Homo sapiens: one gene and its partners. The protein of the gene in region 4 purifies or fractionates together with the protein of the main gene of each other region. This does not show direct contact. Each region holds a gene or a part of one and is shown on either strand. Other genes may lie near its edges.

Evidence for each region.
Region 1: the proteins of WDR55 (region 4) and REXO5 purify together in Homo sapiens (affinity purification with mass spectrometry; 2 studies listed by BioGRID and IntAct, with this or other methods). This does not show direct contact.
Region 2: the proteins of WDR55 (region 4) and NOC3L purify together in Homo sapiens (affinity purification with mass spectrometry; 2 studies listed by BioGRID and IntAct, with this or other methods). This does not show direct contact.
Region 3: the proteins of WDR55 (region 4) and WDR12 purify together in Homo sapiens (affinity purification with mass spectrometry; 2 studies listed by BioGRID and IntAct, with this or other methods). This does not show direct contact.

What each region holds. Positions count from the first base shown.
Region 1 is NC_000016.10:20,837,527-20,841,026, reverse strand, and holds part of REXO5 (RNA exonuclease 5), read right to left. Parts: intron 1,301-3,500; exon of another isoform or gene 1,273-1,300; coding exon 1,168-1,272; intron 697-1,167; coding exon 559-696; intron 1-558.
Region 2 is NC_000010.11:94,356,440-94,359,939, forward strand, and holds part of NOC3L (nucleolar complex protein 3 homolog), read right to left. Parts: intron 1,777-3,500; coding exon 1,644-1,776; intron 893-1,643; coding exon 735-892; intron 153-734; coding exon 96-152; intron 1-95. UniProt on the Homo sapiens protein: May be required for adipogenesis.
Region 3 is NC_000002.12:202,880,674-202,884,173, forward strand, and holds part of WDR12 (ribosome biogenesis protein WDR12), read right to left. Parts: intron 3,069-3,500; coding exon 2,936-3,068; intron 2,111-2,935; coding exon 2,038-2,110; intron 265-2,037; coding exon 187-264; 3' UTR 1-186.
Region 4 is NC_000005.10:140,663,404-140,667,703, reverse strand, and holds the start of WDR55 (WD repeat-containing protein 55), read right to left. Parts: upstream 2,801-4,300; 5' UTR 2,792-2,800; coding exon 2,601-2,791; exon of another isoform or gene 2,547-2,600; intron 2,340-2,546; exon of another isoform or gene 2,267-2,339; intron 661-2,266; exon of another isoform or gene 591-660; intron 1-590. UniProt on the Homo sapiens protein: Nucleolar protein that acts as a modulator of rRNA synthesis. Plays a central role during organogenesis.

The DNA.
Region 1 (3,500 bases), on a different chromosome or scaffold from region 4:
CCTACTCTGTAATGTAAAAAAAGAAGTAACTTTCTAAGATATGAAAGTTACTTCTCTTTTTGAAAGAGTATTTTATCATTTAAAGCTGAGGTACAATCATAAGGACCACAGGTTATATTCAACCAGCAGACATATTTTTTCGTATGGCCTGGTATTTGAGAAATGGGAGCCAACATATGAAAACTGACAGATTTCTTAATTCTTGTTTTTAAATTGTTTGTAGCAATGTGGTCTCACATTGCTTGAGCCCAGGCTGGTCTTGAACTCCTGGGCTCAAGCAATCCTCCCTCCTCAAACTCCCAAAGTGCTGGGATTACAGGTATAGGCCACTGCGCCCAGCCAGATTTCTCAATTCTTTAAACACACACAACAAAAGATCTCACAATACTGGGTATACATTCTTGTGGGTCAACAACTGCTCTCATTAGAGTATGTCTCACACTCCAGTTGGTAGCAATCAAGCTTACTTTACGAATATTTGCTATCTGCATGGCCCAAGCAGTCACCTGAATGTCTAACACTAATCTAGAAAATGAAATCTGAATTTTCCGGTCTTACCTGACGGGTTTCAAGAACAAAAGTCATTGACTGGACTGGGCCAAAGCTTTTAAACAGCCTCTTCAGAGCCCTGAGATTGCAATTTTTGCTAAATGGCCCAGCATAGACAGTTGATATCTCTGTCCACTTGATCCTCATCTGTAGGAAAAACAACAGAATATAGTATGGGAATGAATATGGAAAGAGAACTGAAATCATGAGTCAATGCATGGGATTATTCACCAAAGATTTTTTTGATATAAATACTTGCCAAATGTCCAAGGATGTTCACTGAAGTATTATTTGTAATAGCAAAAATGTATAAAGCACAAATGTTAATAGGTATATCATATAGCAGAATACTATGTAGCCATTAAAAACAAGGGAAATAAGATATGTAGTGATACAGAAAGATGTATGATATACTGTTAAATGAAAAAATAAAGTTGCAAAACAGTATGCATAGTCTGATTCCCATTTTCATAAAAATATTTTTAAATGTTAATATGCAGATAGTAAAAATCTAGAGAAAAACACAACAAATTAAATAAAGCATGTATTACTTTCCTTAATGATGAGAGGTTATAATAAGTCACTAAATAAATCATTCAGCAGAACCCATTCACTTACCCTTTTGTTCATCTCCTCAGTGAGGACAGGTGAAAAGGCCTTAAAAGAGAACTGAACAATGCTGAAGGGAAACAGGGGGATTTCCACTCTGGCCTGCTCAAGAACCTGTAGAGAACAGCACAGCCTGGATAAGGTAGGAACCTCATACTCTATTGTGGCTCCTGGATATGAGCCACAATAATATAAACAGTAGTTGTCTTTTTACGCATACTGAAAGGTAATATGGGGCTGACTTCCAGGTCTGCAGGAAAATGGTGAAACCACACACCTTCCCCAAAGAACCACAGAATCAATAAAAAGAATAAAAATAAAATACATATGAGCCATACCTTCGGCATTACTAAGAGACAAGGGCTATTACAAAAATTTTCAAATGACCTGTAATTAAATAAATAAGTGTAACTCCCACTATTGTAAACTGCTGCAAGCCTGTGAGTAGGGAAAGCAAGGGAGAGGAGGCTTAATAGATTTGGTTAAAAAAAAAAAAATCAAGGGGCATGGAAGAATTAGATGAAGCATAAAAAAACCCCAAAATAAAAACTCCAATTAAATGTCAAATAAGGAACATGGGTCATGATTTTGACAGTTCTCAGCACTTGACTACAAGCAAGAGGCTTGGCAGCCTCAGAGAAGCCATGCTTCTGGAGAAGAATCAGATATATAGAGAAAAGGTGGTACTCCTTGGAGACACTGCTGTGAAGAATGCCAACTCTTCTGAACAATATTATAAATTCCTCCCTTCCCTCAACACCACACCATCATTCTGGAAATGGAGAACTAGGAAGCTTCACTTCAGCCTCTCACTCTCACAGAAACAATGAGTTAACAACAATATACGGACCAGAACACCTTTGAGAGAACTGTAGAGATTCCATGAGAAACTATATAGCACCTAGACCAGCATGAAACCAAGAAGGGTTTCCAGTAAATGGGAAAGGAAAATTTGTGATGTTTTGTGGTCCCATCTACACCTCTCCCTATCTGACATAATATGGCTTCTTCCACACCACAGATCTTCTCTTGGGATGGAAAAAAAAGAGGGGACCATGTGTCCAATGTTCTGGGTACTGTGGGGGCTGTCTGAGGGACTATTTTCTGTTTTGCGTGACTCGGAAGGCTGACAGGACTGAAGAAGGCCTTGTTTGGAAGCCACTGAAAACAGATGTGATCACCATGGCATGTTAGAGCTGCAGTAAGAAACCAGGGGAAGAAAGAGATTATGGGCTCTGAAAAGAAGTAGGGACAAGGGGCTCAGGGAACAACTAAAGGCACATGCATAACCCCAGAGAAGACAAATCTCCAGAACAGGTTTGGGAGGTCATGAAATCTCTAACTAGGCTGATTGGTGAAGGTCTTCCCCTGCACGAAGCAGTCTGTAAAGACAACAACTGGGTATTTATTCAAATGCCCAAGCCTCAACAATACCAACAACAATAAGTCACAAGGCATACAAAGAAACATAGCCCAAGTTTCACTTCTGCAAAATAAAAAAGTTATAAGATCTCTTTCACAATAATATAAATATACCTAACATTACTGAACTATGTACATAAAAACAGTTAAGATGGTAAATTTTATGTTTTTTACTACAATAAGAAGAGAGGCAGGAGAGGAAAGGGAGAGAGAATCCCTTGATAAGTAGAGGAAAAGCACAAAAAAAGAAGAAAAAACTGCACTGAGGAAGGCAGAATAAAAGAGATGCTCTTGAATGAAAACCTTGTTCAAAAACAAATCAGTAAAATTAGAAAATAGTAGACCATATTAATCTAAACTACTATTAAAAAAACAGCAACAGCTGGGCGCGGTGGCTCATGCTTGTGATCCTGGCACTTTGGGAAGCCAAGGTGGGAAGATATTTTGAGCTCAGGAGTTTTGAGACGAGCCTGGGCAACATAATGAGACCTCATCTGTATAAAAAATTTAAAAATTAGCCAGGCATGGTGGCACATGCCTGTAGTCCCAGCTACTTGGGTGGCTGAGGCAGGAGGATCGCTTGAGCCCGGAGGTCAAGGCTGCAGTGAGCTCTGCTCACGCCACTGCACTCCAGCCTGGGCAATAGAGCAAGACCCTGTCTCAAAAACAAAAACAAAAGCCAAGACATAAAGTGAGAATCGAAGCATTTCAGCTGATGAAAATTATTCCCCCTAAAAAAAAAAATCAACCATGGGGCTAAAGGATACAGTTAACATTACGGTCTAAACTGAATTGAATATTAGCAGCCAAGCATTTGAGGATATGAAAAAGCAACTACAAGTTGTCAAGAAAGAATAGATTCAAGTGAAATTTTAATAAAGGGCATTAATGAAAAGCATGGAAAGAATTAGGAGTATACA
Region 2 (3,500 bases), on a different chromosome or scaffold from region 4:
ATGTACCTTCCAGATTTCATCTAAAATTAACTCACATTTACTATTATGCAAAAAAATTCTCAATTAACAATTTAGTAACTGTAAAGACATATTACCTTCCTCAAGTTCCCTCTCTTCTTCTTGATCCTCTTCATCTTTGTTACTATCAGTAACTATATGGAAAACATATGTATTAAAACTGTGATATATACTTAAGTGGTAAAAACTGTAAAGAAATGCTAGGAGGTGATTACGATAAAACTCAGGATAGCAGTTACTTTTATGGGAAGAGCACAATTAGTGATTGAGGTGAGCACAAGGGAGGATTCTGGAAGCTAGCAGTAGTTTTTTTTCCTTGTCTGAATAGTAGTTTTATAGGTATGCGCTTTGTTATAAACCATGTAACTTCACATCTTTGATATCTGAACTTTTCTGTTTTATTTCACATACAAAAGAAGATACATTAAAAAAGAAAGCTAATCAAGAACAGTTAATATGCTCTAATTTTAGAAACAACAAAATTTAGTGAAAAGAAAATCACCTGAACCTTGTAGCTTCAGTTGTCCTCACAGTACAAATTGGTACCTGAGATAATCTATAATTCTGGCCCAAATCATCAAGCTTGCTATAAGACTAATTGAATATTTTCTAGATATGGGTAAAATCAAAGTAAAATTAAATTTTGAGTGAAAAAAAAACATGATATCAGTAAGGGGGTAAAAGTTCAACTAATATTACCAGTTTATTAGACTCACCTGGCTTCTCCCTAGTCTGTGGGATTATACCACTTTTATCTTTGATAGGAAGTAAATGAATCAGTTCCTTCTCTGGTGCAGTTTGCAGAGTTCTTGGTATTTTTTCATATTTATCTATAATGCGTTCATGCTTCCGTTTCTTCGCATGAACAGGCTCACTGCAGGGGAAAAAAAGATCAATTTTCAGTCTTAATAGATCTAAAAAGTTATCTAGAGACCTATCATTTCAAAAGTACAGAAAAACCACCAGCCAACTTTCAATAGGTATATGGATAGTAGCACTTAGGCTAGTGTCTGGCACATAGCAGGCACTCAAACAGCAAATGAATAAAAGAAATGGGTAAACAACCTACCATACAAACTCAAACTTTGGCTACATCCAGTTTTCCCTCTAGATGCAAAATAAAGGTGAAAGTTACAGCAGATTCTTTATGAAGAACAGTTCATAAAACCAAGTGTGACTCTTACTTTCCCAAAATCTTTAGAGTATAGCATAGACTTTGGAGTTTAAAAGGTCCAACTTTAAATTCCAGATACTTGTGACTGCAGGGAACCATCAGTTTCCTCTCTGGAAATGGGAATAAGACCTACCAGCAGGGTAATGAGGATTAAGTGAAATCATAGCCGTAGGAACTCAGAACTGTTCTGCCACTACCTCAAAGTGAGAACAGCATTCTTCCCCCATTCACTCTACTTGACTATTCAGACTCAAAAGAAAGATGTACATTAAATGAAATCAGCTTATCTTATACATGAACCTCCTTTATTTAGGAAATAAGCTAAATAATACTTTATTCTTTGTAAACATTGTGCTCAAAGGTGAACACCTTGAACCACCTAAGTGAAATTCAGAACCAAGTTTTTAACACTAAATGGATATGAATGATTATAACCCAAATGAAGTATTACCTAGAAGAAAGATCTCTTGTTAGAAAAGATACTCTTTGTCCTAAATCCTTCATTAACTGTAAGTCATCTTCATCCATCATATCTAAAGGAAGGGCTTCTTCTTCTTCCTCTTCTTCCCTCTCAATCCTTTTACCTGTACCACACACACACACACACAAAGAAAAATTAGAAACAAGTATCAGAGATGTAGAACTCTCTGCATTTTGGGTTTAAACAGGAAAAGCTTACGCTTTCTGAAGCAATCCTCCCACTCCAGCCTCCCAAAATGCTGGGATTACAGGGAGTGGGCCATGGCTCACAGCTGAGCCCAGTGCTTCTAAATGGAAGAACTACTGATATGCTAGGCAAACAATTCTTTGTCGTACTGGGATGTTCTGAGTCTGGAAAAATGCTAGCATCTCTGACTCCTGCAATCTAAATGCCAATAGCATTCCCAGGTTATTGTAACAACCAAAAACTAAATGTCTCCACATACTCTGAAATGCCTTTCAGGACGTTTGGAAACCAATGACTTAGCCCCTCAGCTCCTTCTCATCTCCAATTACTTTCACTTCGTATTCCATTTCAGCCAGCCTCTCTAATGGCCACATTCCAAACCCTAGTGCTCACCCCTCTCTCTGACCACAAGCTTTTATCCTTCCAGCTCCCATTCAGTTACTTCCACAGCACTTCTTCCTTAACCAATTATGTAACCTTTCAATCCACTGACCACTCCACTTTCTATCTACCTGTGTGTTCTGTCTTCACTCCCTCACTTAGACTGCAAGATTATCACTTCAACCACACTCTTGCCAATATCCTCAACTATTTTTCTTTCAACACTTCAGGCACTCACATCTAACAAAATCCCAACAACAGATCATTCTAACTTCTCTTTCTGCTCACTGTCTGCGTCTTGCTCTCTTTCTCCATCTCCTCTTTTTATTTAAAAAAAAAAAAAGTCAACTAAGTGCCAGGCACTATTTGAAGTGCTGAGGATTCAACTATGAATAAAACAATCTTAGCATCTTTCCTAGTAGAACTTACAATTCTTCCTGACCCATTAAAACTCGTAAATCTTGGCTGAGCGCGGTGGCTCACACCTGTAATCTTAGCACTTTGGGAGGCCGAGACGGGTGGATTGCTTGAGGCAAGGAGTTCAAAACCAGCCTGGCCAACATGGTGAAACCCCATCTCTACGAAAAATACAAAAAATTAGTGAGGCGTGGTGGCACATGCCTGTAATCCTAGCTACTTGGGAAGCTGAGGCAGGAGAATCACTTGAATCCCGTAGGCAGAGATTGCAATGAGCAGAGCAGAGATTGCAATGAGCAGAGCAGAAATCGCCACTGAACTCCAGCCTGGGCAACAAGTGTGAAACTCCGTCTCAAAAAAAAAAACAAAAAAAGACCCTAGTAAATCTTGCTATATAAATGTACACACTGCACAGAATGGCACTCCTATCTACTTTAAATGAGCCTTCTAAATTTAATAATCCCATTAAAAAATGGGCAAAAGATATGAATAGACATTTCTCAAAAGAAGACATACAAATGGCAAACAGGTATATGAAAAGGTGCTCAACATCATTGATCATCAGGGAAATGTAAATCAAAATTACAATGAGATATCATCTCATCCTAGTTAAAAAGGCTTTTATCCAAAAGACAGGCAGTAACAATGCTGGCAAGGATGTAGAGAAAAGGGAACTCTCATACACTCTTGGTGGGAATGTAAATTAGCACAACCACTATGGAGAAAAGTTTGGAAGTTCCTCAAAAAACTAAAACTAAAAATGGAACTACTATATAATCCATCAATCCCACCCACTGCCAGGCATGAATCCAAAAAAAAGAAATCAGTATACCGAACAGATAT
Region 3 (3,500 bases), on a different chromosome or scaffold from region 4:
TATAAACACAACCTATCTTATTATAAATACAAAATAAGAAAAAGTGATACGTTAGCTGTTATGAAGGGTGAAAACATTATATAAACTTCAAAAGGCTGCTTTCTGCATCTGCATCTATGTAATTTCATGGTTCTCTACCAATTTCATTTACAGAAATAATCTCTATAGTCAAATTATTGTTCACTTTCATGCCCCAACATGGGAAGTGGTAGGTGAATATCTGTAGGAATACAATTTATTGTCTGCTCCTCCACTCAGAAGTAGCTGTGTAAAAGGAGAGAAAAAGACAAGAAAACATAAATAAATATAATTATTTCACATCATAGCTAAACCTAATTAAATACTAATGATTTTCATTACAAAAGGAATTATGGGTGAGCAGTTAACTTGCATTGAGAGTGAGTAAAGGGACCAACGTTGTTTCACTACTATACTATGATACAGTTTATTAAAACATTAAAAGCTATCATTTAAATTTGGTTGAGACATAATATGCTGTTGCACTTTCTATAAAGCATCTGCCAAGATACATAAGTTTGAAAGGGATACAGTTTTACCTATTAAAGAAAATTAAAAATTTTTAAAGGACAACACATTAATTGTATATTACAAATTATTCAAGTAGCCCTAGGCCTTATATTTGGAAAGAATTCTTAGGCAGTAAGAGCTTACGTATATACATAAAAATAATTAAATTGTAATTCTTTAAACACATTTTATAATGCAGACTTATGCAAGATTTTTCCAACTGGTAAACACTTTGATCCAATTAGTCTTAAGTAGTGAGTTTTTGGAGGTAAAATGTTTCATGAAGATACTCGTGGGGGCTAGGCACAGTGGCTCACACCTGTAATTCTAACACTCTGGGAGGCTGAGGCGGGAGAACTGCTTGAGGCCAGGAGTTCAAGACTACCTTGGGGAACACAGTGAGACCACGTCTCTACAAAAAATTTAAAAATTTGCCAGATATGGTGGCACCCACCTGTAGTCCCTGCTACTCAGAAGGCTAGGGCAAGAGGATCACCTAAGCCCAGGAGTTCAAGCCTCAATCTCTAAAAATAAATAAAGAAGATACACATGGGGGCGGGAGGATTGCTTGAACCCAGGAGTTCAAGGCTGCAGTGAGTCACGACCGCACCACTAACATTCCAGCCTGGGCAATAAAGGACCTTGTTTCTTAAAACAACAACAGCAAAAACAACAAAAAACCCACTATACTCACAAGAAAAAAAAATGCTCCAAAATTTCAAATTTACTATTCCTAGTATTATTATTATTTTGAGACAGGGTATCACTCTGTTACCCAGGCTAGAGTGCAGTGGCGCGATCATAGTTCATTGCATCCTCGACCTCCCAGGCACAAGTGATCCTCCTGCTTCAGGCTCAAGTAGGCTCAAGTAGGTCACACCACCATGGATAACTAATTTTTTAATTTTTGTAGAGACATCATCTCACTATGTTGCCTAGGCTGGTTTTGAACTCCTGGGCTCAAAGAATCTTCCCCCTTTCCCTCCCAAAGTGGTAGGATTACAGGCATAAGCCACCATGCCTGGCCTATTAAAGGACAAATTTGTTTCTTCTTTGAATGAGAGGTGACATTTTATAAATAATATTAAGTGAAATAATACAGAATTATAAATATCAAATATATTGAAACTAATAAATGTTTTTTTTTTCTTGAGATGGAGTCTATCTCCCAGGCTGGAGTGCAGTGGCTCGATCTCAGCTCACTGCAAGCTCCGCCTCCTTGGATCACGCCATTCTCCTGCTTCAGCCTCCCAAGTAGCTGGAACTACAGGCGCCCGCCACCATGCCCGGCTAATTTTTTGTGTTTTTAGTAGAGACGGGGTTCCACCTTGTTAGTCAGGATGGCCTCGATCTCCTGACCTCGTGATCTGCCCACCTTGGCCTCCCAAAGTGCTGCGATTACAGGCGTGAGCCACTGCACCCGGCCCGAAACTAATACATTTTATAAACACAAACACCAGATTTATTCTAGTCACTTTCCTCTTCATCAAATAACTAATAAATTCTTACCCCTGTGTCTGTCCAGTCTACACTCAGAACTTTGTCTTCATGAGCAGCCAGATCATAGAGAGGAGCCTTACAACTAAAAGATGAAAATATTAACATATTATATGCATTCACAGTGTTAAAACAAACATTTGAATAATCACTTATACTTATCTGAAAACTTTACAGGGTTTACCAACCTTGCCCCAATAACCACTTAATCTTAAAATTCTGTTTATTTGATCATCTCTCCTCTTTTTCCTGTATCATTGGTAGACCACAGACATTTATTATAACAAATATATTCAGAAAAAAATGTTATTTCATTTTAAGAATTTATTTATAATTAGGCCCATTTTCACACTTCCTTGACTACTTTAACCCCCAAACTATGGCCTTATATACTGTTTGTCTAGCTATCTATATGCAACAAAACAACATATTAACATGAATTTCTTTTTCTTTTTGAGATGGAGTCTTGGTCTGTTGCCCAGGCTGGAGTGCACTGATGCAATCTCGGCTCACTGCAACCTCCGCCTCCTGGGTTCGAGCGATTCTCCTGCCTCAGCCTCCTGTGTAGTTGGGATTACAGGAGTGCGCCATCATGCCCGGCTAATTTTTGTATTTTTATTAGAGACAGAGTTTCACCATGTTGGCCAGGATGGTCCTGAACACCCAGCCTCAGGTGATCTGCCTGCCTCAGCCTTCCAAAGTGCTGGGATTACAGGTGTGAGCCACTGTGCCTGGCCAAAAATTTTTTTGATCCTGGCTTTTCTTTTGCATATCAGTATTTGTCACATGAGGTTGCAAAACCATGAGGCTTTTTTTACTCTTCTGGTTTTAGATAAGAATTTCAGTATTCATTTCCTTTCTATAACAGGTAATTGATATGTTTCTCTTATAGATCATAAATAGAATTTACCTTCTTGTATCCCACAGCTTAACAATGTTATCTAAAGATCCTGAAATCAGCTGCTGTTCATGGGTAGGAGACCATTTTACTGATGTCACCCAACCAGTATGTGACGTTAGGGACAGCGACACCAAAGAACCATCTGAACAAAGCAAAAAAGACAAGCGTTGAATTTTAGAAAAGGGAAGTAGGTAGAAGGAACCCAAAAAATATTTGTAGAAATTTTTTTTTTGAGATGGAGTCTTGCTCTGTCACCAGGCTGGAGTGCAGTAGTGCAATCTTGGCTCACTGCAACCTCTGCCTCTGGGATTCAAGTGATTCTCCTGCCTCAGCCTCCTGAGTAGCTGGGATTACAGGCACGCGCCACCACACCCAGCTGATTTTTGTATTTTTAGTAAAGGCAGGGTTTCTCTATGTTGGCCAGGCTGATCTCCAACTCCTGACCTCATGATCTGCCCGCCTCGGCCTCTCAAAGTGCTGGGATTACAGGCATGAGCCACCACGCCTGGCCAGAAATTCCTTTTTTTGTACATCTCCAGAGAGATGAGAAATAGATGTTATTCACACATATATT
Region 4 (4,300 bases):
GGAATACCCCCAAGTGCCTGCCTCAGAGCAGATCCTCAAAAAGGGCAGAATGAATACATGCTTAATTGCCAGTGAGTTCCAGGTAGGCAGAACTGAGCCTGCTCATTTTCTCTATCCCAGTGCTGAACGTGAAAAAGTAGCTTAATAAACATTCACAAATTGAATGAATACTTGGGAAGGGAGAAGAGAGCCCTGGAAAGCTAAGGTGGTGACATGTGGGTTGGATCATACAAGAGTAGAATTTGCCTGGCAGAGAGCAAGGGCCAGATACTGGAGGCAGCAGAGATAAGGAATGAGGAGGGTTCCTTGTAGCAGGAGAGTAGCATGACTGAATCTAGAAAGATGGGCTGGGGTGGGCATGAGACCACATGAGCCAAGCAGAAGTTTGAATTTAATCCTCGGAAAAGGAACCTTTTCACAATAGTCATGGCTGAGGGTGGGGAAGGGGAGAACCAAGAATTTTCCTCCAGAACCTTTTTTAAGACAAGGGAAGCAACAAAGTTGTGTGGAATGTGAAGAAAGGTGGATGTCTAGGGCAACTCCCAAGTGCCTGGCACCATAAATATGGATAGTAGTAGAAGGGAACCTACATTTGTTGAAGAGCTGCTTAGGTGCTGTACTGCAAACTTGTCCCCTCTGCAAGGGTAGGTATAATTCCCCCTTTCAAAGATGAAAATACAGAAGTTAACACGCTCAAGGCCATTACAGCTAATGAGGGGTTGAGGTTTAAATTCATTAAGTAAATCTGATAAGCATAACATCTTCAACTTTTCCACTGCCTCTAACCTGTATCTTTTGTTCAAAATCAAACATGTGTTGAGCATCTACCCTAGACTAGAGGTTGGAGATAAAATAGAGAACAAAACCGATGACAGATTACACTCCAGAACAGTGTTTTTTCACATTCTAGTCATATAACGGACTAGTAAGCTACGATCAGCATTTTGTGTACATGTACACAATAATAGAATAAAATCAGCAATTGTATCACAGAGCATCATATATAATGTAAAAGGTATTTCTCTGTGAGGCAAGGTCAAAGACGTTTGAAAAACATTAGTGAAGGAGACAGCATTCAAATAATTACACAAATGGACATATGGTTACCAACCATTCATTATTAAGGGAAAGGTACCATGGCACCTGGTGCCATGGCAGCATCTAACAGGTAACCAATTTTAGTCTGGGGAGAGAGGAAGAGGGAAGAGATCCTGGAAACTCAGAGATAGTAGGTAAAAGTGAGGGGAAAGGAGTTTTCCGGACAGAATAGCACATGCAAATGGGCTGAGGTTTCGAGATTTTTTTTTGAGATGGAGTTTTGCTCTTGTTGCCCAGGCTGGAGTGCAATGGCACGATCTCGGCTCACTGCCACCTCCACCTCCCAGGTTCAAGCGATTCTCCTGCCTCAGCCTCCCGAGAAGCTGGGATTACAGGTGCCCGCCACCACACCCAGCTAATTTTTCTATTTTTAGTAGAGACAGGATTTCACCATGTTGGCCAGGCTGGTCTCCAACTCCTGACCTCAGGTGATACCCCACCTTGGTCTCCCAAAGTGCTGGGATTACAGGCATGAGCCACCACGCCCGGCCCAAGACGTATTTTTAAAAGGTATGGATGAATGAGCACAGATGGTCAGGGCGTTGAAGGCAGGATTGAGAAATTTGTACTAAATCCTAAAAGCAGACCATTGAAGGGTTTTAATCAAGGGAGTGTCTCACTCTATTGTCCAAGCTGGAGTGCAGTGGCACGATCTTGGCTCACTGCAACCTCCACCGCCCGAATCCAAGTGATTCTTCTGCCTCAGCCTCCCGTGTAGCTGGGATTACAGGCCCGCGCCACCACACCGGGCTAATTTTTGTATTTTTAGTAGAGACGGGGTTTCACCATGTTGAACAGGCTGGTCTCGAGCTCCAACCTCAGGTGACCCGCCCACCTCGGCCTCCCAAAGTGCGGGTATTACAGGCGTGAGCCAAGATTTGTGGTTTGAAAAATCACTTAAAGGGGCCTGCTGAGCCTGTCTCGGGCACAATATAATAATCCGGTAGGAGTCCGGGCACGGTGGTTTACGCCTGTAATCCCAGCACTCTGGGAGGAAGGCAGGTGGATCACGAGGTCAGGAGTTCAAGACCAGCCTGGCCAAGATGGTGAAACCCCGTCTCTACTACAAATACAAAAAAAATTAGCCGGGCGTGGTGGCGGGCGCTTATAATCCCAGCTACTCGGGAGGCTGAGGAAGAGAACTGCTTGAACCCGGAAGGGGGAGGTTGCAGTGAGCCCAGATCGCGCCACTGCACTCCAGCCTCGGCGACAGAGCGAGACTCCGTCTCAAAAATAAATAGGTAAGTAAATAAATAATAATCGGTGGGAAATAACAAGGCCTTAAAGGGCTTTTTGGCCTACTACGGTATCTGGGCTCTGTCACGACATTCCAGTTCTTTCAACAGATTGGTGTGATAGAAGAGCCGAATGTTACTGAATAAATTGGACCCAAAGAATCTTGCAAAATTTGTCTCCCTGCAACTTTCTCTCATCTCTCCTGTTCCCAGGTCCACCCCCGGGAAGCTTCCAGACCCGGCGCCCCGGCCCTGCCCCGCTCTCACACGAACACGTCCCCGTCCACGTCCCCTGCAGCCAGTAGGTCACGGGCCGGATGGAACGCCAGCCCACTAGCCGGAGCTTCCAGCACGATGTCTTCCGGAGTGTCCCGGATCCGGGTTGGGGCTTCCATGGAGTCTGGGTCCTCCTCGTCGCTCCCATCCTCAGCGGGCCTCTCCTCACAAGTGCGGTCCATGCTGAGAAGGACTGCGAGCCGCGCCGCCGCAGGGTAGTCAGCCTCGGAACCACCCACACTGCGGGAGGAGTAGCCTGGCACTCCGCTTCCGCCTCGGGGGGCGGGGCCGGAAGTGTCTCCGGGACGTTCTTCCTCTTACAGGAGAGGTGGGTGGGCCGCTGCTGGTGCGGGTGGAGCGGAGCGAAGAGACCGCATCTGGGAGATCGGCTACTTCCTTGTCCTGCTGTGACCCCGTTTGGGCTAGGTAGACGGTGCGACCGTCAATTCCCTCCCTAGTCACGTCACGTAAAGTTGAGAACTGCGTGTAAATCTTTCCTCTCCTACTTCATCCAGACAGGCTTAATGCCCTTGGGATAGGAGAGAGGGACGCTAGTCCTTCGTGGCTTGGTGAAACCCAAGATCAAGTCAAGCGACAGCCTGGGCTGTCAGGAAGCCGCAAAATCCCACGCTGCGCGATGACATACGGGAGTCTGGGACAGCAGGCAGCTCAAGCAGCTGGTGTCCACGCCCCTAACGTCTTTGTGGCCAGTTTGCTGTGCCAGTTCCTACAATTTGTCTACAGAAACTCAATGGGCTGGACAAGCAGTGCTCAGTTACCAAGAATTTTTTTTTCTTTTTTGTTTTGCTTTGTTTTGAGACAGGGTCTTGCGCTGTCGCGCAGGCTGGAGTGCAGTGGCACGATCACCGCTCGGCTCAAGCGATCCTCCGAGTAGCTGGAACTACAGGCACGCGGCACCACGCCTGGCTAATTTTTATTTATTTATTGAGACGGAGTCTCGCCCTGGCTGGAGTGCAATGGTGCGATCTCGGCTCACTGCAACCTCCGTCTCCCGGGTTCAAGAGATTTTCCTGCCTCAGCCTACCGAGTAGATGGGACTAGAGGCGCATGCCACCACGCCCAGCTAATTTTTTGTATCTTTAGTAGAAACAGGGTTTCACCATGTTGGCCAGGCTGGTCTCAAACTCCTGACCTCGTGATCCGCCCGCCTTGGCCTCCCAAAGTGCTGGGACTACAGGCGTGAGCCACCGCACCTGGCCAATTTTTGTATATTTTGTAGAAACGAGGACTCAGTATGTTGCCCAGGCTGGCCTTGAACTCTTGACGTGTCTTCCCACCTCAGCCTCCCAAAGTGCTAGGATTATAGGCGTGAGCCACGGCGCCCAGCCCCTGAATTTCTTTTTTTAAATCAAGGTCTTGCTCTGTCACCCAGGCTCAGAATGCAGTGGTGTGATCATAGCTCACTACAGCCTTGAACTCTTCGGTTCGATCCTCCTGCATAGCTATAGACTCATGAACTCCTGGCCTCAAGAGACTCTCCTGCTTTGGCCTCCCAAAGCACTGAGACTGTGGGCATGAGCCATCGAGCCTGGCCTCAGAAACTGAATTTCAAACCCACAATCTCCAGGTCTTGCTTTTAGTGACTCTCCAGATGTCTTCACCTGTGCCATGTCTCTGTGACCATTTTTAATAATTGGGACTGCCTACCTACATCCATAGAACCATGGTGT